Regions from separate parts of the Homo sapiens genome. Here regions 1, 2 and 4 are each linked to region 3. Evidence: fine-mapped QTL for protein levels in blood plasma. A gene starts in region 3. Each other region holds a variant in brackets. All regions are shown on one strand. Distances are between the middles of the regions.

Region 1 (7,948 bases), 520 kb before region 3:
GAGGTATTAAAAACAAACATGATTGCACTGCAAATCAGTAAAGAACTGGTATGAGGACAGCTGGGGAAAAAACAGTTGGACTCTCTACATCACATTGGAGAATTTTAAACAGAGAAGTCAAATGATCCAACTTACAAATAAACTTCTAAGTTAGCTGACTTCAGATTTCAACTACCTGTTGGGAGTGAATTCAGGAGAGCATGGAAATAAGATGATTCAGGGAATCACATCTGGATTTTTCTAACACTAGATAACATACTTCCTGGAGCATTTGGAAGAAAAAAATGAAAGCAAGAGTCAGTGGACAGCACAGAGCAGAGATTCTCAAACTTTATTATATATTGAAACTACCTGCAGGGCTTCTTGAAAAACAAACTGGCTGAGCCCTACCACCTTACTCTCTTCACCCCAATATTCCAATTCAGCAGATCAGATGGCACTGAGATGAGGTTTGAAAATTTACATTTCCAACAACTTTGCAGATGATGCAGTAGGTCAAGGATCGTAGTTGAGAACCACTGTCTTAGAGATGATGTCTTTTATTCTTTTTTTTTTTTCTTTTGAGACGGAGTCTCACTTTGTTGACAAGGCTGGAGTGCAGTGGCGTGATCTCGGCTCACTGCAACCTCCACCTCCCAGATTCAAGCAATTCTCCTGCCTCAGCCTCCCGAGTAGCTGGGATTACAGGTACGCACCACCACGCCCGGCTAATTTTGGTATTTTTAGCAGAGATGGGGCTTCCCCATGTTGGTCAGCCTGGCTTCAAACTCCTGACCTCGTGATCCGCCCGCCTCGGCCTCCTAAAGTGCTGGGATTACAGGTGTGAGCCACCATGCCTAGCCAATGTCTTTTATTCTTAAATCACCGCTTAATTTTGTCTCAAGCCAATAATGGCCAAGGAAGAAATTCATCTATTAAGAAATCCATGGACTGGGGGCCAGGCACAGTGGTTCACACCTGTAATCCCAGCACTTTGGGGCCAAGCCAGGTGGACTGCTTGAGGCCAGGAGTTTGAGACCAGCCTGGGCAACACAGTGAGACCCCCAACTCTACAAAAAAATTTTAAAAAGCCAGGCAAGTGGCATGCACCTGTAGTCCCAGCTACTCAGGAGGCTGAGGTGGGAGAATTGCTTGAGCCCGGAAGGTCAAGGCTGCAGTAAGCCATGATCATGCCACTGCAGTCAGCCTGGGTGACAGAAATCCATGGCCTGAATTCAGTGCATAGCCTGGCTCCTACCAGCCTTTCTCAATGGGGGTCTGTAAGAGAATACAACTCTTTTATTGAAAGTGACTTGACTTTTTCTCAATTCTCCCAAGAATTGTACACAGTACACAGTATGTTTGTACACAGTACACAGTATGTATGTACACTGTACATGTCATCCATAGAGAGGAAGTAAGGTATACAATGGATGCCAAAGCATTGGGGTTTTTATTTTCTACCCACACTGAGACACTGCAAAAATGTATTCAAGATAACTAAATTTAGTCAAGTCTTTAAAGAAAGGCTCTGATAGTAAACTAAACATACTCTGCCTCAGAACCTAGAACCTACCTTTTACCACACAAGTTAGTGCTTTCAAAATGTAGCATCAGAACAAGAAACATGATGTATTAATACTGTGCCTCTGGCATGGTCTTACAAATTAATGGGGTACTTGGGACCACTACTTTCACCATTTTTATATACATCACAGTAATGTCCTGAATCCTCTGTGCCTTTCTTTTTTAAAAAGTAGAAAGCAAGACTTCATTTTTATTCTAACTCACAAACCTAGCAAATCCTAACAAGATAATACACTCAACCTCTAAGAAGAGATCTAATATTAGGATTCGGTAATGAGGTCACATTGTTACAAACTACAGTAACTGAAAACTTTAAAGCTCCCTGAGACCTGAGTAGAAAAAAAAAAGGGTCGGGGGGGGATCATGGCAGACGGGAGGCAGGACTAGACTGCAGCTCCCACTCTGACAGAGCACCGTGTGGAGTCTTGCATTGTAAACTCTTGCTCCAGAATGACGGCAGGAATAAATCAGGAAAGCCAAGAGAACCCACAGACCTTCTGAAGGAAGCAGATTGCTCCTGCAGGGCCCAGGATATACCCCAAATACTGTGCTGGTATCCATGACTGAGAGACCCACAGACGGTTCACATCACAGGTCTCTGTGTAGACAACCCCCAGTACCAGCCCAAAGCCTGGTAGACCTGCTGAGTGGCTAGATCCAGAAGAGAGACAACAATCACTATAGCTTGGCTCTCAGGAAGCCATATCCCTAGGAAAAGGGGGAGAATATCATCAAGGGAACACCCCGTGGGACAAAATAATCTGAACAACAGCCTTGAGTCCTAGACCTTCTCTCTGACAGACCCTACCCAAATGAGAAGAACCAGAAACCTAACACTGGTAATATGACAAAACATGGTTCTTTAACACCCCCCCCAAAAAATCACAGTAGCTCACCAACAATGGATCCAAACCAAGAAGAAATCCCTGATTTACCTGAAAAAGAATTCAGAAGGCCAGTTATTAAGCTAATCAAGGAAGCACCAGAGAAAGGCAAAGCCCAATTTATGGAAATTTAAATAAACAATAAATGAAGGGAGAAATCTTCAGTGACATAGACAACATAAATAAGAAACGAAACTTCAGGAAACAATGGACACATTTATAGAAATGCAAAATCCTCTGGAAAGTCTCAGCAATAAAATTGAACAAGCAGATCTTCAGAGCTCGAAGACAAGGTTTTCTAATTAACCCAATCCAACAAAGGCAAATAAAAAAGAATAAGAAAATATGAACAAAGCCCCCAAGAGGTCTGGGATTATGTTAAATTACCAAACCTAAGAATAGTCAGCGTTCCTGAGGAAGAAGAGAAATCTAAACGTTTGGAAAACATATTTGGGGGAATAATCTAAGAAAACTCTCCCAGCCTTGCTAGAGACCTAGACAATCAAATACAAGACATTCAAAGAACACCTGGGAAATTCATCACAAAAAGATCATCGCCTAGGCACACTGTCATCAGGTTATCTAAAGTTAATATGAAGGAAGGAATCTTATGAGCTGTGAGGCAGAAGCACCAGGTAACCTTATAAAGGAAAACCTATCACATTAACAGCAGATTTCTCAGCAGAAACTCTACAAGCTAGAAGGGATTGGAGCCCTATCTTCAGCCTCCTTAAACAAAACAATTATCAGCCAAGAATTTAGTATCCAGCAAAACTAAGCTTCATAAATGAAGGGATGGTACAGTCTTTTTAGGCAAACAAATGCTCAGAACACGCCACTACCAAGCCAGCACTACAAAAACTGCTAAAAAGAGCTCTAAATCTTGAAACAAATCCTGGAAACACATCAAGTAAAGCTCCCTGAGATCTTATCAAAATAATCAGCATGAAATTATGCTTGTTAAGGGAATGAAGCAAAGCACATTACCAGATTTGCTATTTTTATTTGATGTGTTTTCTTCCCCAGGTTGAATGAGCAACACTAAAAATGTAACAGCTCATTAGTTCATTGTTACCTATAAATCATTTATACACAAATATTTGAGTTTCTCCTATCTACTAGGATCTGGGCTAGGCACTGGATGTTAATGAAGTTTACAGTTCTTCAAAACTCATTGCATTTTAGGCTGGGCGCGGTGGCTCACACCTGTAATCCCAGCACTTTGGGAGGCCGAGGCAGGCGGATCACGAGGTCAAGAGATTGAGACCATCCTGGCCAACATGGTGAAACCCCGTCTCTACTAAAAATACAGAAATTAGTTGGGCGTGGTGGTGCGCACCTGTAGTCCCAGCTACTAAGGAGGCTGAGGCAGGAGAATCACTTCAACCCGGGAGGCAGAGGTTGCAGTGAGCAGAGATCGCACCATTGCATTCCAGCCTGGCAACAGAGCAAGACTCTGTCTCAAAAAAAAAAAAAAAAAAAAAACAACTCATTGTATTTTGTACCAGGAAAAAGATTCCCTTTAAGTTTTATTTGAAATGTATAAAGGTCAAATTGAGAAAACAAATTTTAAATATTATGTTATTCATTCACTAAGCAAATATTTATAGATCACCCACCATATATTAGATATTTTATGAGGCTCTAGAGATTAAAAAAAGAAAAACATTTTGATATGATTGCACTTGCCCTCAATGATGAGCTTACAGTATGGTTGGGAAGAAAGAAAAATAGTTGCAATAATTATGCAGCTATAACTGTAGGAAGACAGGGAAGGAGCATCTAAAGGGGTGGGAGGGCACTAGATATAAAGAAGGAAGCTGAGCTTGAGCTGAGACTTAAAGGACCTAGACAAGGTTATTACAAGAGGTAAACTATGAGGGGGAAAGCCAAAATAACAGACTTAATTACTTTTAAAACCCCTACAGAATGTGCATTTGGAAACTGATGAAATAAGACCTAAAAATGTAAGCAGAGACCAAACAACATGTCTCAAATTAGGCACTTTTCATTCTGATAATCAGAATCACTGAAAAAATACTAACATGTTACAGAAAAATTACTCAGATTTACATGTGGTGAACTGTCAAGGTGGGGTCAAACAGGACACAGGCAAACCAGTTGGGAAGTTATTTCAATAAACCAACTGAAAGACAGAGAGGATAGAATTAAGCCAGGGAAACACATAAAAGGATGGATTTAGGAGATCAGTATACTTGGAAGACAGAATCAATGTGGAATAGGATTTAAAGAAGGAGAAAGGAGCAGGACACTCAAATTTCTGGCTTAGGAAATGTTGAAGAGTGGAGGAGTCTATATGTATAGAGGGCATCAGGAAGAGGAATGATAATTCTGTTTTGGAAAACTTTAATTATGGGCTATCAAGTGGGGCATATGGTTTTGGATTTCCTATCAGAGGTCTGGGCTGGAAATCCAGAATTTCATGTTATCACTTCATCATAGTTAAAACCATGGATGAACATAATATTGTCTAAGTCAAATATACATAAGCCCATGGACCCTCTTCCTAAGAAAACAGACATACATACATATAAACAACATTTTGTACTCCATTTCAAAAGCTGCATGAATGCCCATTCATGCACTCCACCCCTAAAGGCCTCTTGGAAGTAGACAGTAGAGAGTTAAGAACAGAGTTCTAAGAAAGTGATCCACAAATCAGTTGTCATATGGAAAAGTGATATGACAACAGAAAAGAAAGTTTCAAATGACATGATACAGTCCACTGTACTCAGCCACTCTGCGGTCCTAGATGACTAGCACACCTAGTTTCCAAAAATGGTAGAAGCTAAATCTCAGTGAGTTGAAGGATAAACGCAAAGGGAGAAAATAGGGAAAAAACAAACAAACAAACAAAAAACCCTACAAATGGGTACATGCTATTCTTTCAAGAAAATGAGAAAGAAAAGGAGAAAAAGTAGGAAATACTGAAATAATGTGGTTTAAGAGTTTCTGAAAATAAAGGATAGAGTTGATCATGATTTTATCATAATCAGGGGAGAGCAAAGAGAGAAGGAAAAGTTGAGCAATCAGGAGAAAGACTGTGACTGATGGAGTAGGGTCTCTGAGAATGCAGGCGAGAATGACAACAAAAGCATAGGTCTAGAGAGACTTGGATAGATGAAGGAGTACGGAAGGAAGGATGAGTGGAAGTGCATATGGTTATAACATGGTTAAGCAGAGGGTGAATGAGGAGAGAAAAACATGGTAAAAGGGAGTTCCACCAAAATGACTCTGATTTTATTTGAGATATGCTAAGACTGTTCAAACAGGTGATGAGGTGGGATTTTTTCTAACACAGAGGCAAAAGTCTGAACTTACCACCCACAATAATAGAAGAAATATTTTTCAGGTAGCAATGAATGCTCAGCTCATACTGCAAACAATTTAAGGTGGCAATAATCTGGCATAGGAACAAAGGTTGGTGTGAACCAGGGTTAAGGTTTTGTAACACAGAGGCAGTGGGACAATGAAGCCTAAATGATAAGGGTTATTAAGTGCTTAACTTTAGGCCTAGATGAAAGGAAAAGATGTTCAACTAGGAGGTCTTAAAGATGAATCATAACATTCATAGTTAAAATTTCTGGTAAGATCACAGTGAATAAGGATTAAGAAAAACTGGCCTACATATCAATTTTTACCTTACTAATTTTTACTCCACATTTAATATGGTCCACTAAATGACAAATATATAAATGAAAAATTCTGTTAATAATAAATATTTAATGCCCCAGAACAAATATAATTTCTAAAGGATTGAAACCCTAAAAGCCTACTTCTGTTCGTCAGAAGTACTGGCTGTGGCTATCTGAACAAATCTTTAAATTGTTAATTAAACATACGTACAGGTAAAAAGAAAGTCTTAAAAATGTAACTGTCCTTTTTTACATTCCAAATAAGGAGAAAACTAAACTGATGGTAGCATATTTCCTTTTGCAAGATGATATTAACCAATAATCAGTGAGCTAGAATTCCAGTACACACTATTCTGAAGTACTACATTTAAAATTGTAATGTTTATTCTTCTTAAACCAAACCTGTGTTTCTAAACTCTAAAGATGGTCTGACTGCTTGATAGCAACTTTAGGAAAAGATAGTTACTGTATTTTTTCGTTATAAAAATATGAAAAGATCTCCAAAACAGCCAAACTATATTTCCTAATAAGTTTAAAGTCAGCACTTAGTTACTGGCAATTATGGATACTAGGGAATTATTAAAGGGACAAAAATAGTCAAAGTGATATACTGCAGATTAAGGGATAAAAACACTGACATGAAGGAGTAGGTTGTAAATGGAGTAAAATTAGAATTTAAGATTTCAGTACTTAAAATAGAATCTTGTACCCACAAACCACACCTTGAAAAATGAACAGTGAATAAATATTAAACAGTGAATAAGAATATTTATATTTTATTGTGCCTTTTTTAAAAATTGAGTTGTGATATTGTTAACATTAGCAAGATCAGAACTCAGAAAATAACCATCGTCGACACATATTTATAATCCTCCATTATGCGATTTCAAAAGGGGGTGATTTTTTCATGATAAATCCTAAAGATAATTTAATTTCTTACTTGTATTAAACCTTATTACCATCAATTGGTTCATACAGCAGAGTCTAGGCACATTTAACTTTCTTGAATCTACCAAACACTGTAGGCCAAAAAAAGGAAGGCAGAGACAGACAAAAACAATAATTACTAGAGATTCTGCTTACCATTTCAGGTATTGAATATCTGCTCCAGAGTGAATGGGGGATGGGCAACAAGAATCTTGCTCTTTTAGTCTGTTTCAATCACCACATGCATCTCAAAA[T/C]GTGAGCATCTTGCTGCATTGCATGATTCTAGTTTTTAACACTTTTTCTCTTTTTTTAAAAAACATACAAGGTGGTGACCAAACACAGAGCAACTTTTTCACTGGGAGTTCATCTAAAGAAACTGTGATACATTCCAAGTCAGGATGAAAAACATGGCTGTGTAGGACATGCTGAGAGACAGCATGTTATGCCAACTTGATGTCCTTTTAAGGGATTCTCAAAGGTAATCTTAGCTATTCACAGTTTCCACCTAACAAGTTCACTTTAGATGCTAACTCATTCTTAAGCAAGAAGCAATTGCTCCTGAATAGTTCTCAATCAAGTTAGGAAACACATCTGAAGCATGCAGAACAGAGAAAGCATGACAAAAATAATAAAACACATAAACACTTTTCACACAATACAAAATATATAATGGTTAAAAACAACCAAATTTCTATGGGGCTCTTATTCTCTAACTTATCCTCTAACTAGGTTTCCCATTCAAAGGTGGGGGAAAAAAATCCTGGACAGGCTCATAACTATAAAGCAGATTAGTCTTTATATTCAGAATATTCCCCCCCAAAGTTGTGTTAATTTTACTTTTAGCACAGGGTAAGGAAGGCTTTTCCTTTAAATGTCCTTGGGAAAACAAATAAAAAAAAATATTTTAACACCAGA
Region 2 (8,257 bases), 500 kb before region 3:
AGACTAACAAGGATGTAGAATATTTTTCTCCTGGGTGATCTTTTGGAATGTCACTAGGCCATACAATCCAACAAAATAAGGACAAAAAGTTATGCTGATGCTAGAGAAAGGTAAGGACAAATCTCTGCAGGATGGCTGTGCAGCAAGTCTAGAGAGCAAGCAGTATACATTGGAGAAGAGCATGGAGGATTCAAGAAGTGAGGTCACATAAGAGAAAAAAAAAGAAGGAATTCAATAGACTAGATGGTAAGATAGGAAATTTGAAAAACAAAAAAATGAAACTGTGATATATATATACGATGGAATACTACTCATCCATATAAAGGAATGAATTAATGACATTCACAGCAACCTGGATGAGATTGAAGACTATTATTCTAAGTGAAGTAACTCAGGAATGGAAAACCAAACATCTTACATTCTCAACTCATAAGTGGGAGGTAAGCTATTAGGATGTAAAGGCATAAGAATGACACAATGGACTTTGGGACTCAGGGAAAGGGTGGGAAGGGGGTGAGGAATAAAAGGCTACTAATTGCATGCGTGTGTACTGCTCAGGTGATGGGTGCACCAAAATCTCACAGATCACCAGTGAAGAACTTACTCATGTAACCAAACACTACCTGTGCCCCAATAACCTATGAAAAGAAAAAATTTCAAATAATAATAATCAATATTTAAAAAAAGTAAAACAAAAAATGAAGATATAGTAAACCAAATAGTGCCAGAATAAAAGGGAGGAAAGAGTAGTTCCTCAAAAGAAATTTTTAAAAAATATTACCATGGAAAGGGTAAAAAACAGTACATATGCAGGAAAATTAGTACCGAAAGGAAGAAAGAGAGCCAATGAAGGAGAAAAAAAGAGTGGTTAAAGAGTTATGAGATAAACGAAGAGTATATTTAAAAAGTTTTCTTCAATCACCAAGGTAATTCCTGCTTCAGAGTTAAGGAGGGTGAAGATTGAGTAAATGTCTTTGGAAATTTAAGTGATTGATGATTTGAAGCAATTTAGTAACATGGTAGGCATGGCATTAGATGTCAAGTGTAAGAGAGTAAATGAGAAGTGAGAAAGTGAAAACAGTGATGATAATTGTTTTTGTCTAATAAATGAATGAAAAATGCAGGGCAATATATGGAAGAAATATCAAGGTCCAGAAAAAAACTGTTACTTGCATGTTGTTTTTAGGATAGAAAAAAAAACATATAAATAGAAGGAAAGAACCTATAAGAAGTGAATCAAGTAAGGAAATAATAAGGTAAAGGCAGACAAGGATACACTGAAGTCTGTGGGTGAAGTTATTCTTAACCTTGGTAGAGAGAAGTTTTCCTGGGACACAGGAGGGAAGAAGTAGAGGATGTTTGAAAATACAGGGAACATTTAATGTGTTGAGGAATGTATAGCTATATAAATTTTGAAGTGAATATGCAATATGAAAGCCATGTTTCTTTTGGTGTCCTTGAAATTATGAATTGTTCATTGCAAAAATATTTTAAACTACTTCCAATCAGGTAGTGAGATATTAAATTTTTATAAAATACAAAAATCAGACAAAATCCAATTTCAAGAATGCAGTCATAGATTAGGTTGCAAAAAGCAACACCATTCTCAGTCAATATAAACATATGAAATGAAAACTACAAGTCACAGTTGTCACTGGTTAATTTAACCTGGTGTCCAATTGGTTTCCTAAATGCCAGGTGATACCCCATGATAAATGTGGGTATACCTATGAACATATGTTAGTGTGTGTGCATGAGACCTAGAGAAAAGAAAATTGGAAGTAATTAGCTTCAAAACTAATGATTTTTATCTAGCCTTTAATATCTGAAACTAGATTTGACTTTCTTATACAAGCAAATAATCCACCAAAGTTTGGGGCTGAAATATATTTATCCTTAAAGCATTGTGTGAAAAGGGAAGAATCATTCCTTGCCAACTGTTGTCTTTCTATCATTCCTCCAAGAGATAAGTTAGGATATGAGACCCCAAACCAACAACTTAATAGAGTTTTCTTCTCATATAATAGGCTAGTGATGGGTACTCCTGAAATTGTGTAGTTGCTTTCTCAATTTAGTCATCCCGGGACGAGAGTACCTTCTTTCTTGTCACTTTGCCATTTCTAGAGTGTTGTTTTCATCTAATAGTTCAAAATGGCTCACAGTCATGACCATATATATTTCAAGCAGCAGTCTAAAGGAAGAGGAGAAGAAAAGGACATATCTTTGGGAACATGAGTTGAAAGTACACCTATCGAGGAGGAGCCGTGCGCTGCTGGTGCTGCTGGTGCTGTTGCCGCCGCTGCTCTCGCTGCAGTCAGTCAGGCTGCGCCTGCTTCTTCAGGGCCCAGTCCCTTGGACACATCGCCGCTTCTAGACCCTCCTGCAGTCTCGGATATTGCTGGGAAAATGTCTGATGAATTTTCGTTGGCAGATGCACTACCTGAACACTCCCCTGCCAAAACCTCTGCTGTGAGCAATACAAAACCTGGCCAACCTCCTCAAAGCTGACCAGGCTCCAACCCTTGGAATAATCCGAGTACTCCACCTTCGGTGCCATCTGGACTCCCACCAAGTGCAACACCCTCCACTGTGCCTTTTGGACCAGTACCAACAGGAATGTATCTCTCCGTGCCTCCCACCGGACCACCTCCAGGACCCCCAGCACCCTTTACTCCTTCTGAACCATCATGCCCCCCACCTGGTGGTC[C/G]TTATCCAGCCTCAACTGTGCCAGGCCCTGGCCCATAGGGCCATATCCTATACCAAATATGCCCTTTCCAGAGCTACCCAGACCATATGGTGCTACCCACAGATCCAGCTGCAGCTGGTCCTTTAGGTCCATGGGGATCCATGTCTTCTGGACCTTGGGTGCCAGGAATGGGAGGGCAGTATCCTACCCCTAATATGCCCTATCCATCTCCAGGGCCATATCCTGTTCCTCCTCCTCCCCAAGCCTCTGGGGCAGCACCACCTGTTCCATGGGGCACCGTTCCACTAGGAGCCTGGGGACCACCAGCACCATATCCTGCCCCTACAGGATCGTATCCCACACCAGGACTCTATCCTACTCCTAGTAATCCTTTCTAAGTGCCTTCAGGACCTTCTGGTACTCCACTGATGCCTGGTGGCCCCCATTCTTACCATTAAGTTAACAATGGACGAAGAGATGACGCTTTGCTTTTTGAAGTACGTATATATGCACATGAATGCATATATAAAAAGTGCTGGTTTCACTATTAGAGGGCATTCATGAAAGAACAACTCTTGCACCTCTCAGAGAAGATAACTGCCTCTTGTACTTGGATGTGTAGTACATCATATGTATACAATCAGATAAAAGCATAGAAGTAAATCATTCAGATGTGATTTTTATTTGGTTTTCATGGAAAGTTAAAGTGATAAAGTATATTCACTAGCTCTTTGACAGAATTTGTTTAAACTATGAAACTACACACTTAAAAATCTAAGATGTGGATTATTGTTAGAATCTGTGACTTCATTGGCAAATTACTTCAAGTATTTTTCTATAATCACTTTCCCCTTCTAAATAAATAAACTTTGAGAATAACCCATCATAATCCAAACAAGTGATGCCTCAACATTTTGAGCTGCTCTGTCGGACAAATAAACCTGGTCCTCTTGAGGTTATATTGTGGATGTCATTTTTAAACTGTCAGTAATTATTGTCAGATGTGGAGTTCAATAGCCAGCCAGTGTTCATTTTTATCCTTGAGCTTTTAGTAAAAATTTCCTGGTTTTATTTTTAGTCATTGGGTCATACAGCCCTAAAGTCTGCTATTTATGGAAACTAACTTTTTTGTTTTTAATCCAGGCCAACATGTATGTAAATTAAATTTTTAGCTAATTGATTAAAAAAAAAAAGAAAGTATACCTATCACTTACAGTCATATTTTATTTACGAGACTTAAGTCACATGGTGACACCCAGTTGCAAGGAAAGCTAGAACATACAGTCCTCATTTTAAGCAACTATATACTTAGTTAAAAAGCATGGGTTCTATTACTGTAAGAGATAAAGAGATATTTAGAGATAAATGTTTCACCCATAAAGCTTTTCCTCAGTTAAAGCAAACATACTGGTATTAAGCAGATAAGGGTAGCCTCTCTTCAGTTCTTATCAGAACTGAACCTCAGGGAACAGAATGGAATGTAATGTCAATAATAACTTTTATCTCTTTCAAGCATATGAAAATTGAGCTAGTAGAAGATGGCAAAATAAAATGCTGGATATTAATTATTTTAAAAATTAATTTTTCCTGAAACTTAAACTATTCTTAAGTATTTTTATGATTAAGTGAAATTTTCATTCACTCTACCCACAACTAATTAAGCATATATCTCATAATCCACACTTTGCTAAGCATTGTGAAACATTCCAAAGAAAAATATGATATGATCTCTATTCTCAAGGAATTTACAAGAACTTACAGTTTGGGTAGGAGACAAATTTAACATTCACAAGACTTTTCAAAAACAATTAGGTGCTGAGTTGTGTGATACTTCTTTTATGAATACAAAAGGAGTCTAAATTAAAGATAGGCCCCTGTTGGCTGCAGGAGATTAAAAGCCTTTGTGGAAAACTGAAATTTGAATTGATCATATAAGTATAGGTAGAATTTATTTATAAAACCTTTCATATGTAAACTCTTAAAAGGTGTATTTGTAGGATTCATTCTAGAATATAAAGTTACTGAATTTTAAAATTCTTTTGTTGCTGGTGATAGTTTAAAGGATAAAAGTGGCTGATTCAGTGTATATGCCAGTTTTCTGTGTTTTTGCTTTAGGTTGTATCCACGAGTACCAGCAGAGTGCCTGACACATAGTAGACATAAGTAAGTATTTGTTAAATAATTTTCTTTTTATAATAGTGTTTCCTTTATTATTTGACCAAGAACTTTTAAAAATTGAGCTATAGCTTTTTTAAACATTGAAGTGTTCCAAAGTATAGAAACCTTAAGTGAACAGTGCTATACACCACTTCATGCAACTGATAGATGCAGGAGGACGATAAGGGAGGGTCCTGGGAGAAGCTCCCACTGGCCTGGGCATGGGGAGGATGGGGTGGAGCCTCAGGAAATTCACGCCATTTGCAGGGGGCAGGAGCCTGGGCTCATCAGTTCCTGTGTGGTGACCTGGGATTCAATCTGTGAGGCCTGTTAACAGGAACCCCTCTCGCTTTGCAAAGTATTTTTTTCCTTTTTGCCCAGTAAATTCCATTCCCCCTCACCCTGCAAAGTGTCTGCATGCCTAATTTTACCTGGTCACTTGGCAAGAACTTTTTTTTTTTCTCAACATTTTTGGCACCCAGAACTTGGGACATGAAGAAGGGTGAGTGAAATGTGGACTGAAAACCTCTCACTTTTATTTCTGAGTATTTTGTTCCTATGACATTTTTCTTCTTTTTTTGAGGACAGTAACAGCATCTATCTTTTCTCCTCCCCTCCCCTCCCCTCCCCTCCCCTCTCTTTTCTTTTCTTTTACAATATGGGAGGTGGTCCACACCCACCACAACAGCCACAAGCATGCCTGTGGGTTGGTTGGGCAAGCAGTGGCTCCCCACCCGCCTTCTCTCCCAGCTGAGTGGAGTGCATGGCCCTGACTGCCACATGTGTGTGCAGTGTCCAGCTGCATGGCAGGAATGAGCCACAGTCACTATCCAGGCACCAGGGCCGCCTTGGGGGCTTGGGCTCTGCACAGCTGGCTGGCCAGACTCCTGCTGGGTCCATGCCTGGGGGAAAGGAACCAATTTGCAAAAGAATATGAAGTTCTTCCCCCAGGCATCTTTCCAACCCTGCACTTTAACTTTTGTTTCCTTTTCGCTATCTAGTCAGCAGTTAATTTTTATGTGAGAGGGTTACTTTTTTTTTTTCTTTTTGGAAAACATTTTAACCAGGCCAGGACCCCAGTGATCACTGTTTATATTCTCTGTAAAGTTTCAGTTATGAAAAAGGATTTGTGAGATTGGTCTTAAGCGATAGCCAATCCGGTGTGCTTTGCATGACTTTCTGAATGATCAGCAACAAAGTTTGCTGTGGGCCTCCCTCTTGTTTTAGGTCCTTGAGAGCATGATGTGTAACCCTGTGGCAATGCTTTGTTTAGCGTCTACACAGCCAAGATTCAATCCTGGCTTAAGAAATGACTCCTGTTTGGTTTTTTGTTCTTGCAATAGTTTACTGAGAATGATGTTTTCCAATTTCATCCATGTCCCTACAAAGGACATGAACGCATCATTTTTTATGGCTGCATAGTATTCCATGGTGTATATGTGCCACATTTTCTTAATCCAGTCTATCATTGTTGGACATTTGGGTCGGTTCCAAGTCTTTGCTATTGTGAATAATGCCACAATAAACATATGTGTGCATGTTCTCACTCATAGGTGGGAATTGAACAATGAGATCACATGGACACAGGAAGGGGAATATTACACTCTGGGGACTGTTGTGGGGTGGGGGGAGGGGGGAGGGATAGCATTGGGAGATATACCTAATGCTAGATGACGAGTTAGTGGGTGCAGTGCACCAGCATGGCACATGTATACATATGTAACTAACCTGCACAATGTGCACATGTACCCTAAAACTTAAAGTATAATTAAAAAAAAAAAAAAGAGAAGAAATGTATAATACACCTAAAAAAAAAAAAAAAGAAATGACTCCTTTCTGCTTTGATATCTGTGCGACCTTTGCCATTTATTGATTCTCTTCCTCTACATGAACCACCTCGGATTTTCCTTTCCCTGAGCTTTCAGTAAAGTTTGAAAGCCAGAAATATTGGCCGCTTGGCACAGCTAAAGTCAGGTAATAAGGTGTTAAAAGGATTTTCTTAAAGAGCATTCAGCTTAATTGAAAGTGGATATCCAAATTATAGGTATATTTAAAAGATCTTAATGTTTTTCTCTTCTGGGATCTTGTTTGGCTGGAAAAAGTGTTTTTTTGTTTTGTTTTGTTTTGTTTTGTTTTGAGACGGAGTCTCACTCTGTTGCCCAGGCTGAAGTACAGTGGCACGATCTCGGCTCACTGTAATCTTTGCCTCCCAGGTTCAAGTAATTCTCCTGCCTCAGCCTCCCAAGTAGCTGGAATTGCAGGCACCTGCCACTGCACCCAGCTAATTTTTGTATTTTTAGTAGAGACGGGGTTTCACCATCTTGGCCAGGCTGGTGTTGAACTCCTGACCTTGTGATCCACCTGCCTCGGCCTCCCAGTGGAAAAAGTTTTGTTCTCAGTGAATGGAATTCTTTTTCTCCGTTTTGCCTTGCCACTTTCAATGCATGCATGAGAAGGGAGAGACCTCTGTTTTCCTAATGGAATTAAAAGTGGATAGATTCCTCTCAAAATCTGTTTTTGCCCCCAGTTATGCCTGTTTATTAGGCCTTAGAGGCTATGTGTTTTCCTGGCCCTGTCTCTTAAAGGGCTCCACCAGGAGGCCAGTAATCCAAGTAGGAGACTGGCAAGCAAAAGATCTTATGGCAACTGGGTTTTCTTATGCCTGTCTGTGTAGTTTTATGTATGTGTTGTGTTTGTGATGTCTATAAAAATAGCTTTAATTGGCCTAAAGGAAAATGAGTGCTTGCATCAAATATTTTTCAAAGGGAAGATAAAAGCTGTGATACTTTTTAATTCATGTGACTTTAATCTTTGAGAAGTAAAAAACAGCCTTAAAGATTATAGGGGCCAGGTGCGGTGGCTCATGCCTGTAATCCCAACATTTTGGGAGACCGAGACAGGTGGATCACTTGAGGTCAGGAGTTCAAGACCAGCATGACCAACATGGCAAAACCCCATCTCTACTAAAAAAAATATAAAATTAGCTGGGTGTGGTGGTGCATGCCTGTAATCCCAACTACTTGGGAGACTGGGGCAGGAGAATCACTTGAACCCAGGAGGAAGAGGTTGCAGTGAGCCGAGATCACACTATTGCACTCCAGACTGGGCAACAAGAGCTAAACTCCATCTAAAAAAAAAAAAAAAAGATTATTGGTAAAATCCCAGATATCATCAAAATGTAAGTAAGTGAACTAAATTATGCAGGTCTGATACTAGTTTGCTAAATGTTTTAAAGTTATACTGCTTTTTGGGTTGTGAGAACTCTTTGAATTGCCTGTTCCACAATTGGTAAGGCCCAGGGACATATAAAATTGACTATGCCCTTAAGTATGCTGGAAGGAATCAAACCTTGGCTGCACCTACTGCATAATTAAAGCTACTTGCTAGGTTTTATATTAAAGTTAAAAATTGCTG
Region 3 (8,257 bases):
AGGCCGAGGTGGGTGTATTGCCTGAGCTCAGGAGTTCAAGACCAGCCTGGGGAACAGGGTGAAACCCTGTCTCTGCTAAAAATACAAAAAATTAGCCTGGCATGGCAGTGGGTGCCTGTAATCCCAGCTATGTGGGAGGCTCAGGCAGGAGAATCTCTTGAACCCAGGAGGCGGTGGTTGCAGTGAGCTTGAGATCGTGCCATTGCACTCCAGCCTGGGCAAGAGAACGAGACTGTGTCTCAAAAAAAAAAAAAAAAAAGTAAGTTATTAAAAACTGGAATTACTTTTACATCGATCTTATAATTAGCTACTTCAATTGTTTTGAAGTAGGACTTGGAGATTTAGGAATTGGTAAGGGAAGAGGTAACAGTAGTGGAGTAGATGGGGGGAGATAATGCCAAGTATTGTAACCTAAAGAGCCTAAGATTTATACTGGTAGAAAGGAAGAATGAGAGTTCTTGAAATGTTCAAAGATTCCTAAGTCATCAAGGTAGAATGGCCCTGACTGTTGGACAAGTATCCAACTACATTTTATTATCCTTTCACACTCCTGATAAAATGCTCCTGATAAAAATGCCACATTTTCTCCATTCTCCTTAAACATCTATTACTTTCTCCCTACTCAAGACTCTTAGCTTGCTTTTTACTTTTACGTCATGAAGAAAACACAAAGAACAACAACAGGACCTCGTATCCTCTTTCTGTTCCTATTCTTCTTCTCCTTCCCTTCCCTTACTGAAAAATTCAGTACTAAATTATTTAAGTGAGACCAAGCAAAACAGTCATCTGCGTGAGAGTTAGGATAGTGGAAGGCAGAGAGTGGTAAGGAAGGTATCTATGGAGCAAAGTAGCCCAGCATAGGGCTTTGGAGCGCATGTAGGAAAAATAGACCCTCAACACCACACTTAAAAACTATTTGACATCTGCATTATATACTGTGCCTCCCTTCCTATTACTAGGGTTTATTGGTCCTTCTCCTATTCCAAAGTAAACCCCTCTTCTTGTACTAGGTCCCATCCTTTCTTGACTAATCAAGGACATCCGTTCATTTCTTCTTCAGCATGTTTATGTCCAATTATGGCTAAAATGACCTGAGGGAATGGGAATAAGTGGGAAGCAAGATACCGGGTCTCTAGTCCTAGAACTATTTTTAACTCACTCTGTGACTCTTTAAGTTCTCATTGTCTAGATTTTCTCATCTCTAAAATCACATTGTTGGAATAGATTGGTGGTTCTCAGCTTAGGGTGAAGAAGCTCCTCACCAGCCCATGATGGCCTTCAAGGCATCTGTGCATCTCCTATTATTGCATGTAAAATTTTGAAGTCATTGCACATGTGTTCATTTTGTTTTCAGATGAGAGAAAGGTCTGTGAAAACTGAACTAGAGTAGATTTCCTTGAAATGTCTTTAAGTCTTGACTTCATATAAGTCTAAGTTTTGAAAGAGACTACAAGAGACGGCCTGATGCTGTTCTGCACAGTTAGAAGGCAGTCTCAGTTCTGCCACATCCTGAGTATGTCACTCCTTTTCTCTCACTTTGGTTTTTACCATCTATAAAATGAAGGTGTTTAATGAGATGATCCAAAATAATACTTTTCAATTTTACATTCAGTTCAACAAAATCAAGCCAAAACAAACAAACATCCTGGTAGTTAGCTTGAATTCAGACTGGTCTTTGCTGTGTCTTCAGAAATTGAAATATTGAGCTGCTAATGTTCTAAGAGCACTTTGAGAGGGAAGAAAGAGAGGGCGGGAGCCGGGCAAGAGAGAGTAAGTAGGGATGTTGTTCCTGCATAAGACTGTAGCTGAAGGACTTAGCAACCTTCTAAATTTTAGAAGATTAAACCTTAAGAGTGATTGGAAATAAAAGAAAAAAAAGCTTCATGGTTGCCCGAGAAGATACTTGAGATCTCATTCCTTAAATGTTTAACTTCCTAAATCCTAAAATAAATCATGAAAAATATTTCTTTATAGCATTGAATTATTTTTGAAGGGTTAAATAGATTGTGTGGTGTCTAATGCTCCCTTGTTAGTCTGTTTTTCTCATTGGAATCTAGATAATATTTTGCTATTGAGAAAATTAATTTGTCACAGCATGCATAATTTTGATTTGTTCTACACTCCAGCTCTCTCCTATTTTCTCCTATGCTGTTGTTGGGACTTGTTATTTCTGTCTTTACAAGTGTGTCCTGTTTGCTTCAAAAAAATAGATTCGTGACAAGGCTCTCAAATCATACACAGCACTAACAGGAAGTTGTTAGTAAGCCTCTCCTTTCCCAAGTACAATGTGGGTCTGGGGGCAACAGTGTGGAAAGCGGAAGGTCTATCCCAGTACCATTCTTTATCCAGCACCTACTGCATGCCAGACTCTATGCTAAACACTTAATGTCAAATTAGACACACTCTGTTCTACACTCTCAGAGTTGTCACAAGAGCTGGGTGCCTTCACTCAGGGATTTCCACTGGAATCTGCTCGTGCTGGTGTTTTGCTCCTTTCTGCCTGGAAGTGGGTGGATGTAATCATGACAAGGAGAGAGTCTTTAGCCAGTAGACAAGTTATCTTCCTTACTCCCATGGAGGAATGGGACAGAATGGGGCATTTTTTCGGAGCCTGGCCCAAACTCGGCTGTGCCTCGAGGGCCCATTAGGCTGCAGGTCACAGCAGCTGGAGCCCAGGCGCCCAGAACCGGTCACGCGTCTGTGCTGCCCGCTCCAGGATGCACAATAGAGTCATTGACTATTTATTTACTGGGTAGAACAAGGCTGCTGTTGACTTAATTAAGGGAGCCGCCCAGCCACCCCTGGGATCTTCAAATGACTAATGGACTCTCCATTGCCACTAACTCATCTCTCCTTAACATAAGTCCCCAGTCCCCCTCCCCCCAACCCTGCCCCACCCAGGAATGCTCAGTAAGCATGTTGTGGGGAACGGGGCGCAGAGAGTCCTGGATGGTGACCAAGAGGGAAAGACTGGCGGTTTTGGCAGGACTGAATTTCTGTGTTTCAGAGCTATTCTGAGCCAGGCGCTAGCCTCAGGGTGTGGAACATGGCCCTGCTGCGCCAGGGTCCGGCGAGGGCTTAACTTTACTAGGGCTGCAGTGAAGGAGGAAGCAAAAGGGCAAGTTCTGGTCTCCAGCTCAGACAACGGGTCCCTGGGGACTCAGAGCCTCTCTAATTCCCGGACCTCGGAATTAGATAGATAGTGGAGAACCACCAGGGACTGGAACTGCTAGGGGACTGCAGAGCCGTGGAATCCCCCCTGGCCCCTTCTTTATGCAGCCCGTTTGAAATGGTCTCTTGAGCCCAGTGCGCCTGGCCTGTTCCCGCTTAGCCTCACTTAAATCTCCTCGCGAATCTGAGCTGGCCAACTTCCTCTGGGGGAAACTGCTAAACTCAGCTCCAGTTAATATTGTAGGGCTGAGGATAAAATAGCAACGGTTTTGAATAGATGTTGACTTTTCCGACCCAGAGGAGCGGAACTCAGGGATTGTTTGCAAAAGCTAATCGTTTCCACAGTGAAGCAGGGAGAGCCTGGTGCGCTCACCGCCGCCAGCCCCTCCCTGGAAGCCAAGCTGCGGGAAGACTCTGGGACTCAGTTGCCCCTCCCCATCTCTGGCCTTTAAAAGAGTCCTCCCGAGAACTTGGACCAGTGGCCGCCAAACCAGGGCTGCTTCCCAGACTCCTGTCTCCAATCTTGGAGTCTGCGACCTCAGGTTCGGCGCCCACTAGATCTCGAATCCAACTTCTTTCTGAAATGTGTTTAGGTTGAGAGTTCCGGGGCCTGGGCGGGAGTTTGGTGGGGAGAGGGGAGTCTGCTATTTAAGGCGCCATACATACACAGAGACAGCCCGCCCGACCTCCTAACACTCAGGAAAAGTCAATTTCCAAGCATCTGTTCTCAATAATGGTGGCAGGGAGCAGGGCACTGTGACTCCCAGCATCTGAGGGAATACCCGCAGCAGCGCTACCAGAGCGCATTTGCTCTATGCGCTGGAGGTCGGGGTGGGAGGGTGCGCAGATCAAGATCTTTTTTTGCGAACCTCAGGGAAATGACCGTAGTTGGACTAAGAGGTCCACTTTGGAGACTACCAGCAGCCCTCCAAGCCCTGGCAGTGGAGAAGTTTCGTTGCTATGGTTTCGGAGAGGCATAAAAGCCATCACCCAGAAGCAAATGTGTTTGGGCTCCTTATATGTGTTGTCACCACCCAAGGCTAGGCAAATTCCTCGGCGCTTTGCATGCATCACTCACTCCCTGACAGAGCATCTTGGCCTTAGTCTCCCCATCCCAGGAGGCGGGTGTGCGCTAAGGGAGCGAAGTCCAGCCGGAGGCTTCGTAACATCCAAGTCTAGGGACACCAGGAATTCTCTCGCTCTAGCTCCTGTGGTCCAGGGGTGGGAGATGCCCCCGAGTGGCCGCGGCGGCCAGGAGCGTGCAGGGGCCACGGGGAAAGGAGCGCGGCGCCTTTAAAGCAAGAGGCGAGGAACCCCCGCCAGGAGGCGTGTCTGTCTCTGCCGCCGCCGCCGCCGCTGCTGCTCCTCGGTCACCGTCTTCGCCGCTGCCGTCACTCGCGCTCGGCGCCGGCGGCTGCGCTGGTCGGTCTGGTAGCTGGGGACTTTTCCGCCCGACCTCCTCCGGCTGCTCCTCCCCGAGGACCACCCCACCCCCTCCCCGCCCACCTCACCCCTAGCTCCAGGTAAGGACTCCCCGGCTGTGGGCTGCACTCCGGGCTCCTTCACGAGGTGTTTGTTTTCAAGAGGACGGGAGGGACTGCGGGTGGGCGAGGGGCATTTTCCACCTGGAGAGAAGGAAGAAGGCGAACAGTAGCGCTGCGGACGTCCGTGCGCTCGGGGCGCCCGCTGGACGGATTCACTGCGAGTCTTTGTCGGGCTTATCTCAGCCAATTCCCGTCAAGCATGCAAGTGGCTCTGTTGGCTGCAGTCGCCTATGTTCTCCACATAAAATGATTTAAGAAGTGGACGTGTCAGGAAGTGGCCTCAGCTACGGGGACTCACGCGAGGCGAAGAGAATGAGACAGATGGCAAGAAGCTGTGTGGCTGCCGGCGGGTCTGACGAACTCCCCATCCCTCCTTCTGCCCACCCATCCTTCCATTAACCCTACTCCTTAGTTCTGCGCTGAGGAAGTATATTTATTTTAACCGGCACCCGTATTAAGAGCTTCTGAAAAAACTTGGAGGGCGTCCCATTAGGGTAAGGAGTGGGCAGTGTTACCAGGGTGGATCATAAACCTCAAGAACTTTTAACGAACCACATCCTCTGATATTTTTACCTTTAAGGAGATAGAGTTTCTTTACCAAACAACACGACCGAGCTGAGGCTCCTTAGAGAATAATTTCCAATTTAGGCAATGGGGAATATTAGAAAACTTACTATTAGTAGCCTTTTGGTAATGCACAGATTATCTTCTATCGTTTATTCATCTCCATACTGTAAGTATTCTGTCATCAGAAATTATCTTATGGATTGATGATTATTTTCATTTCACGAGAGATGATTGGTTCATTTGAGTCTTAATTAGTCAGTTTAGTTACTGAAATAAATGCAATTGTATTTCAATCTTGATTTGTCTTAGTTCATTACTTTCTAACTTTATAGAGTCTATTCCTGTAACCACCAAGGCAGCCTATCAACTTCCAGTGGCCTTAAAAACTTTTGAGTCAAACAAACAACAAAAAATTGAAATGCACAAGAGCAAGGTGATAGAGAATTGAGCAATGTTTGGAAGTCTTATCTGTTTGTTTTCTCCTATTTAAACCCATTGAAAATCACACAGGCTGAAATTTAAAAAAAAAAGTTCTGGGATATGTAAATTTATTCCACTTCAATTTGTTAATTAAGATACACTTATTTTAGTGTCTAAAAATTAATCAAAACTCTAAATGTCATTAATCATCAATGCAGCAGAATGTTGCTGGAACAGCTGATAATGTGTTCAGAATCATAAGGGATACCACAGCATGCATAGTTAAGAAGAGTGAGTTGCAAGTATGCAACAGTGTGATTTCAACTGAAACCTGACTCAGTCCTGACTTTATTCTCTGAGATCTTTAATGCCATGTATAAACAGGCTGTTTGTTTTAGCTAAATTGCTATGCAACAGGCCACTTGCATGGAATAATAGGTTAGGTGTTACTATAAGATGAGGTTTTTCAAATGTCACATAACAGCAGGACTTCCGTGACAAGTCAAGTGGAATCCTTAGTAAGAATTCCATGTGAAAAATTTAAATATAGCTATGGCATGTAAGAACCTTTGAAACATCTTTGAAATTCAGGTTGTTCTGGGGTATGTATTTGCTGTTTCCAGCAAAAGGTATAGGCATTGTCTTTTTAAATGTTGTGCTATAAAGATTATTACACATTTTCTCATACCCCAGCAGGTGGCAGCTAACTAGAATAAGATTCATTTTCACTGGCAGAATAGGAAACTAAAATTGTTTCTCAAGTAATAGTGCCCAAGAATAAGAGGTCATTAGTATCTGCAAATATAAAAATATAGTGAAAGATGAAGCTAGTGGGTTTTTTTGTTATTGTTGGAAGAAGCTTTGCATTAACATGATATGCATTTTCTTCTTTGTCAATTTATCATAGGTTTGATATTTGTGTCAGCCTTCTATGATTTTTTTGAGGTATACTTCTAAATACAGCTTCTCTCTGGGTGTGCGTGTATGTGTGTTTTTGCAGTTTGTTATCTCTGCTTTGACCTTGGAATCTACAGAGCTTTGGCTCATAGAAATAAAGAGTGCCATATGGTTAAAATGAGGAAAAAAATGAGACCATAGAATAAAATATATAAATCTTACTAAGTATATATAATTGCCTGATATCCAATAGCAGTAGTTTTCTCTTTCCTTTAAGGAAGAAGCAAATTACAGAACTGACACAATTTTTAAAAGGGTTAAATCTAGTCAGTGAAATACTGTGTAAGGAATTTATTAATCCTTCATATAACCTCAGAACTATGATGTGTGGTATCAGTATTGGGGAGAAACTTGTAATAACTTCAAAATTGCCACATGTTAAGGCATCAACTATGCCACCAAATCATTTTATTGTAGTATAGGGATGTAAATTTAGCATTCCCCCCCCCCCCAGGAAGTGAGTGAGTTTAATGTGAAAGAACAAGAATTAATCTCATTACCCTAGTAACAGATGGAAATCTGGAGGTGGAGAATTGAAAGTGATAACTAATTGTACATTTAAAAAATGTCTTTAGCCACTGAATATTGACAGCATGTTATTTGGCATTCTGAATTGTGGTCTTTCTAGCAATTTTTTTTTGTACTGACAATCAAGTAGTTTAGTGTTCATGAGGAATCTCACAATTAATATAAGTAGTTTTTTTAACAGTATGCCCTATTACAAAAAAAGATAACTACATCTTGGGCTTATCAAGCAATTGCACTGAAAAATACACACAACACAGTTGATAAAATAGTCCTCTTGATAATGTGAACAATGCAATAATTCCAATTCCTTTACTCTGTGTAGTAGAAATTTACACATTGTCACTCAAATATCATGTTAGTTATTTATTGTGCTACTTTCAATGTACTACTCCAGAATAATGAATGCCAGGAGCGCTGTCCGTGGTCCTGAAGAAAGGTCGTCTCCAGTCTTTTAGAAGTTCAACTGGACAGGTGGAATTGCTGTCTGTTGTGCTAAAGCCTTTCAACTGAGTTGATGGATGTAAATGAATCTAATTTACCATATGTGCAAAATTGGTTCTTTGGGGATCAATTAATATTAAAAAAGTACAATCTTTTAACTGTTTAATTTATTGTGTAATAACTTCATGAATATAGAGGCTTGATCTTTCACTTTTCCAACTAGACATCCAAATAACCCCCCAAAATAAATAGTTTAGAATACTAGTTTCAAGTGCAAAAGTTGCAACCATAATGTAAAATGTCATTATATTAATGGAATACATGAACAAAGAGATGTGGTACATTTTGTTTTCTCAGGTTCCAATAAATGCCAGCTACACTGTGAAATTTCAGTATTTTGATTAGTCACAATAAAACATGCTATTTTCAGGTAGTAGATATCAGTTATATTGGCAGATAAAAATGTGAAGGATTATTTTTTTCCCCTGGCAGTCATTATTATCTCTGCTAGGATCAAAAAGAAAATGAACAAACAGAATGGAATAAATGAGACAGCAAATAGAAGACAGAACGTGTTGGGCTGTGTATGTGTTTTATAAGAGATATTTTAAACATGGACTGAAGGAGTC
Region 4 (6,400 bases), 510 kb before region 3:
GAGACAACATAAACTGGAGCACAATCCATAGTAAAACCAAAAGCTTAATTCTCAACATTTGAGAACTTTGAGAATCAGAAAAAGGATTTCAATCTATGAAACATAAAATCTGGTGATGGAGAAAATGGCTGTCAATCTCACCTAACCTAGGGAAAGAAAGAAAATGTAACCATGAGTTTGAATGCACAAGTGACAACACATCAAACTTTTACCAGCCCCTAGAATTATGCTTCTTTTAAACCAAAGAATAGCAAATACCATTAGCACACTGCATTCCATGAGTAAGTTAATTTATAAGAAACCTATTTGAAATGACTGCCCAGTACTCACAAAACCTCCCTAGCACCCACATACACATTTATTTATTTCAAAATGACATTATAGGCTCCTTGATTGCGAAATTCACCCACAATCCATCACGGTCAGCTACCTATTTACTTTCCAGTGTGTTGGGGGAAAAATATGAGGAAGATTTCTTTCCCCAAATCTACGTGAAGAAAACGAAGTTATCAAGGCTTTGTAACAGAAAAAAAGAAAACAAATTACCCATGCATGGGACAGAAAAACCTCATCTGGTCACGTTGTGGCTTAACACTTGGACAATATGTAGCTTAGGTTAAGTTTTCTATCCCCAACCCCACCTACAAACTCTAGGAATGGGCGGTATTGTTGCGAGACCCCGGACTCGACCTCATGCCACTGAAAAGGATGACAGGTCGGGACTTGCCCCGGAGGCAGGAAGAGAATCTCTGGCGGGTCGCGTAGCCCGCCTCGCCGTCCCCGCCTCCAGCCAGCTCCCCTGGCCGCGGCGACCCTTCTCGTCCTCCCACCTCCACCTCCACCTCCTCACCTCTCGGCCTGGCTCACGCGTTTCCCATCACTCTGTCAGCTCCTGCCACCGCGCCTTCTTCCCTTTCGGTTTTACTTTAACTTCCCACGCCGGGTGAGGAGCTGAGCGCAGGGCCAAAGATGCGAGCGGGCAGCTGTATCGCCGCGCCCCGTCCGCCCTCCAAGCCGCGCTTGCCGGGGTCGCGCCCAGTCACAGGGAACCGCGTGTGAGGACCATCAGTCAGACAGACAGACGCAAAGACGCACAGACCCGGCGAGGAGGGACAGAGTGGAGCTGGCGCCGGCCTACACGTCACCGCCCCGCTGCAGCGCCAACGTCGGCACGTCGACTCGTCGACTCCGGGCCCTCTGCCCCGCCCGCGTGCGCGCGCCGCTCCGCCTCCCGCCTCCAGCCTCTAGTCCGCTGGGTTCGGAGGAGCAGAGGCGGAAGGTCCCGGCGGCGGCGAGGATGCGCCCCAGGGCGGGAGCGGGACGCTCCACTTTACCCTGGCTGCCCGCAACGGGCCAGGCCTGCCGTCTCTACCTCTCTACCTGTGAGTTTTTTCCCTGCATTTACTTCAGTCTGCCGCGTCTTCTCCCCGCCCTTCTCTGTAAGGTAAATATGTGGAGGAAATAATTCCTATTAAAGGTAAAGGAAAGGAGAGCAATTTGAATGAAGAAACAGGTAGTTGCTATCGTCGTTTTCAGCCAAAGCCCTCTGGCTGCTAGAGAGTATACATGGTTCTCTGGTGTCAAGGCCTGTTTTCCATAAGCTTTCTGGATTCTCAGCTTAGTTCCCTCAAAGTGATCTCTGCAAGTCGGCTCTTCGGTCAGAAGACCTCCTCCAAAAACAGAAAGCCCAAAGATTCCCTAACTCGATTGAAAAGATAGGAAGATACGAAGAAAAACTAACCTAAAGAATTGTGTGGTTTATCTGCAAAGAGTTCTAGACTAAAAGCCAACAATGCAAAGATAGTATGAGTTAATATGTTTGTTGTGGCTCTCTTCTGCCATTCCCGCTTCCTCAAGGTAATGTGCCCCGATGCCTGGTAGAACTGTTTTGTAGAGGCAGCCAATAGTGATCCAGTTATTGTCTTTACTGGTCAGACCACCTCTGAAGTGCTGTGTTCAGCATTTGAAGACTTTAATCAAGCTGGCATTATATCAGGGAAGAGCAAAATGATGACGAGAACTCAAAAACAGGGCAAGTGAAGAAGGATTGATTAAACCTTCCAGGACTCACCTAGAAGAGAGAAAACTACTGGACTCTCTCCAAATATGAAATGACCTATCATGTGAAGTTGATTTGTTTCATGTGATGCAAACTTCAGGGAACAGATTTAAGATCCTGAAAAGAAGATGCCCTTGTAGCACGACCCAAAGAATTGCCTACCTTAGCATGTGTGAATACCTCAACCACAGAATTTTGCTTCAAGGAGATTCTGAAGCTCACTTAATAGGGACTTGGTACAGGGGAGCCACACATCAACAGAATAATTAGTTGATGGTTTTGTTAAAGATATTTCCAGTCTTGAGATTACATGTGTCTTTGGTCCTGGACTTCATAGAGTTTACAAGTTAGTTCATGAGACAAGACAAATGCATCACAAAAATAAATAATGCAAGGAGGCCAAGTGATAATGAGAGGTGCTGATAAGTGCTAGGAATTCACATGACAGATTATTCCCATCACAGTTCCAGAGGCTTAAGGGAGAAGAGAGGAACTGAAAATAGACTACCTAGAACTGCCCTATCCATTGGGGTAGCCACCAGTTAAATACGTCTCTTGACATTTGAAATGTGGCTTGTCCAAACTGAGACATGCAATGAGTCCAAAATGTACACCAGATTTCAAAGACTTAGAAAACAAATGTAAAATATTGTAATTCTTATGTCGATTACATGTTGAAATAATATATAATGGATCAAATAAAATATGTTAAAATTAATTTCAACTTTATTTTTACTTTTTATGTGACTTCTAGAAAATTTTTAATTACATAGGTGGCTTGCATCATATTTGTATTACATAGTCCTGGCCTGGAAGGAAATTCAGTTAGCCCTCTGTATCCATGGCTTCTGTATATGTGTCAACCAACTTTGGAACAAAAACAATTGAAAAAAAAAAAAAAAAAGAATGGTAATGTCTGCATTGAACACGCACAGACTCTTTTTTTCTTGTCATTATTTCCTTAACAATATGGATGTAACAACTGTTTACATAGCATTTCCCATTGTATTAGGTATTATAAGTAACCTAGAGATGGTTTAAGGTATATGGGACAATGTGCATAGTTTGTATGCAAATACTATACCATTGTGTGTAAGGACTTGAGCATCCTGGGGTTTTGGTATGTGGGAGTGTCCTGGAACCAATCCCCTGTGGACACTGAGGGATGGTCTTACTTCATTGAACTCTAAGAGCTATCTTTGTCCTCTTTATAGTCCCCAGGGTTTCCCC[AT/A]TTTTTTTTTCAAGAGATGGGGTCTTGCTGTATTGCGCAAGCAGAAGTGCACTGGGTATTCACAAGCATGATCATTGTGCACAACAGCCGTGAACTCCTGGGCTCAATGATTCTTCTGCTTCATCCTCTCAAGTAGCTAGGACTACAGGTACCTGCCATCAAGCCCAGCTTCCCCAAATGTTAGTGGAAAGACAACCTAATGAAAATGGCCCTGATGACAAAGAGAAAGACCGTCCAGAAAGTATGCCATGAGCAAAGACAAGAAACAAGACTATAACTGCATTCTAGATAATGAAAACCTATTTATCTGTAATGGAACATTGTTAATAGAAGGTAGTGACAAAGTTAAAATGTAAACAAACTAGTCTATAAGGAGACTCAATTTTAAATTTAAAGAATTGAGTATAATAGGCAGTCAGTGTTTGGCAGTCACAAAATGGGATTGGGAGATTACTTTGGCAATATTGGGTAGGGTGGGTTGAAATTAGTGCATGGCTGGGAAACCAATTAAAACTCATTGCAGTGGGCTAGGCGCAGTGGCTCACCCCTGTAATCCCAGTACTTTGGGAAGCTGAGGCAGGAGGATCACTTAAAGCCAGAAGTTCAAAAGCAGCCTGGGCAACATAGGAAGACCCCCATCTCTACAAAAAATAGAAAAAAAATAGTCAGACTTGATGGTACATACCTGTAGTCCTAGTTACCAAGGAGACTGAATTTGGAGGCTCTCTTGAGGCCAGGAGTTTGAGGCTACAGTGAGCTATGATCATGCCATTCAGCTCCAGTCTGGGCAACAGAGCAAGACCCCATCTCTAATTGAAAAACAAAACAAAACTCCACATTGCATTTAAAAATATATCATATGGCTGGGTGTGGTGGCTCACAGCTGTAATCCCAGTACTTTGGGAGGCTGAAGCAGGTGAATTGCTTGAGCCCAGGAGTTTGAGACCAGCCTGTGCAACATGACAAAACCCTTTCTCTAAAAAAAAAAAAAAAAAAAAAAAAAATGAAAATTAGCTGGGTGTGGTGGCATGCACCTATAGTCCCAGCTGCTCAGGAGGCTAAGGCAGGAGGATCACTTAAGCTGGGAGGTCAAGGCTACAGTGAGCCATTATCGCACCCTTGCACTCTAGCCTGGGTAACAGTGAAACACTGTCTTAAAAAAAAAAAGTATCATACCAAAAAAAGGCTCAATATTGGATTTATTTAAATAAATTGTAATACATCTCTAAATATAGAGGCATTAAAAAAGTATAATGTGAATCTGTATTGCTTGATATGGTAATATGTCCAAAATGTACAGTTGTATGAAAGAGCTTGCAACACAATCTATACATAATATGAACACATTTAGGTAAAATTATATATGTTTGTGTGTGTCTTCTGTATGTGTGTAACATGATTATTTTGCAAAGAGTGCCTTAAATTATCTCAAAATTGTCTCAAGAACAGAAAATTTCAAGGTGGAAGTGTTTCCAACCTATTTCTTACAGCTCAACAAAATCATTCATGCTTTTGACTTTTTTCATTTCTATGTTTCATTATCCTTAGTATGTTAGCCTTTCATTATCAGATTTGCCACTTCATGGTTTGTAAGGATGGGTTGCCAAGTTTCAGAACCATTTCCAGCCCATCAGTCTCTGGATACCTCCTTCAGTATGTGTGTGCACTAGGTCTGCCTAGCTCACCAGTGTGCCATAGCCTCAGCTTCTAGGCCTTTCTTATTTTATCTATTGTCAGTCACTTCTTCCCTGCCCTTTTTCACCCCTGCCTTATCCTGCAACACCGAGTCTTAAAATTCCATCTTTACTGCACTCCAGTGCAGTTCCTGCTCTGAAGTTGATGCTTAACCTTTGAGGAATGCTGATTAATAAAAGACTCAATTCTAAAATGTTTTTCTACTCTTTTAAATAAATGATATTAGAAAAGAAAAAAGTTAGATTACTACCATGGCAGACAGTGTTGTTTGCCTCCTCAACCACCATTTCTTTCCTCTTTCTTAACTAGTAAGATGATTTTTTAAAAGTACCAAACAACTCAAAAAATGTGAGCTTCTCCCAAAGTAATTTCATTTCCCTTTGAATAAGAATGTTGTATAGGTGGGCATATGGGCCAAGGGACAATCAGCTTCGGAGAATCCTGCAATATGTTTTACCCAGGTTTCAAAATATGTGCTTACAATATATAAAGGGTTTTTCTTGAATTACTGTTCAATATGGTGAACTCGGCATATCATTTGCCTACTATCCTTTCCTACACACCATAGAAATAAAAATGAAGAAACAGAAAAAATGAAGAATAAGTGAAGGAGTAAAGATGATGTGTGCCTGTATGCATGCACTTACATGAGTAGAAAAAAGTAGATGATGTCAAGAGAAGCAAATGAAATTTCAAAAATGTGTTGGGATACAAAGCAAATAGTAGTGATTTGACCAAAACCATAGCCTAAAAAATATAGTGGAGAAGCTACACAGGATAGGGCAGAAGTGAGAATAAGGGCTGAAAATGGGGATAAAATATGGCACAATTGAATCTATCACCATACACATTTCGCTTTCTCAGACATATAGACTGAGAGCAAGCAAAAGATATTAATATCTGCCACCAGACAAAAAGACCAAAACTGACCCCCCAAATCTTCTCCAAATTAATTGAATAACTAGTACAGAAAAGTGAAGACTTTTAGGTTGATGACACAAAGGAAAAACATTCTTATTCAAGCATTCAGGGCCAGCATCCTGAGAATAAGCTAATTGCCTACTCATGTAAAGTGAAACTTCATATTTGGCATTCCTGGCCCTGTCCTACCTAACCCAGCCACGTATTCACAATTCCTACATAGGAGAGAGAGAGAACTGGCAGACTTCTTACCTACAAAAAGAAAACTGCATCAACTACCAATTTTATATACATATATATATATATATATATATATATATATATGAACAAACATGAAGAATTAACAGGCAAATAAGGAAAATCAGCATCATGAGAGAAAAATACAAAGAAAAACATAGAAAAACTAACTCTAAAGAAGGCAAGGAAGCATAAATAAAAGATTTTAAAGAAGCACCCGAATTAATATGGAATTCAGAACATATTATGTCTACAAG

Alleles and levels. Positions count from the first base shown, and alleles are read on the strand shown. Strength reflects both the effect of a copy and how common the allele is.
As copies of C replace T in region 1, the plasma level of the protein whose gene starts at base 4,565 in region 3 goes up (strong association).
For the plasma level of the protein whose gene starts at base 4,565 in region 3, allele G in region 2 goes with a higher level than allele C (moderate association).
For the plasma level of the protein whose gene starts at base 4,565 in region 3, AT is the low allele of the variant in region 4 and A is the other (moderate association).

What was found. A credible set is the group of variants that fine-mapping cannot tell apart. PIP is the posterior inclusion probability: the model's chance that the variant is causal. Protein levels are from antibody-based Olink assays in UK Biobank. Linkage for the fine-mapping came from a reference panel and not from the study's own genotypes, which makes the PIPs less certain.
Region 1: its variant is the best candidate, but not a certain one, in a credible set for the plasma level of the GRIK2 protein (UK Biobank, PIP 0.52).
Region 2: its variant is the best candidate, but not a certain one, in a credible set for the plasma level of the GRIK2 protein (UK Biobank, PIP 0.84).
Region 4: its variant is the best candidate, but not a certain one, in a credible set for the plasma level of the GRIK2 protein (UK Biobank, PIP 0.70).

What each region holds. Positions count from the first base shown.
Region 1 is chr6:100,870,552-100,878,499 of GRCh38, forward strand. All of the region lies in intron 1 of ASCC3 (activating signal cointegrator 1 complex subunit 3), which reads right to left. Among named protein-coding and RNA genes, the nearest start is that of ASCC3, 6.8 kb to the right of the region's middle. The variant T/C (reference allele first, on the strand shown) is at 7,288.
Region 2 is chr6:100,887,197-100,895,453 of GRCh38, forward strand. LOC107984041 (a long non-coding RNA gene) reads left to right here. Exons shown (of 8, transcript XR_007059692.1): 2 at 4,802-4,849. It also overlaps the pseudogene LOC728098. Among named protein-coding and RNA genes, the nearest start is that of ASCC3, 10 kb to the left of the region's middle. The variant C/G (reference allele first, on the strand shown) is at 2,708.
Region 3 is chr6:101,389,144-101,397,400 of GRCh38, forward strand. It overlaps GRIK2 (glutamate ionotropic receptor kainate type subunit 2), which reads left to right and starts at 4,565. Exons shown (of 17, transcript NM_021956.5): 1 at 4,565-4,694.
Region 4 is chr6:100,880,211-100,886,610 of GRCh38, forward strand. It overlaps ASCC3 (activating signal cointegrator 1 complex subunit 3), which reads right to left and starts at 1,119. Exons shown (of 42, transcript NM_006828.4): 1 at 851-1,119. LOC107984041 (a long non-coding RNA gene) reads left to right here and starts at 1,247. Exons shown (of 8, transcript XR_007059692.1): 1 at 1,247-1,444. RefSeq lists an enhancer at 963-1,082. The variant AT/A (reference allele first, on the strand shown) is at 3,290.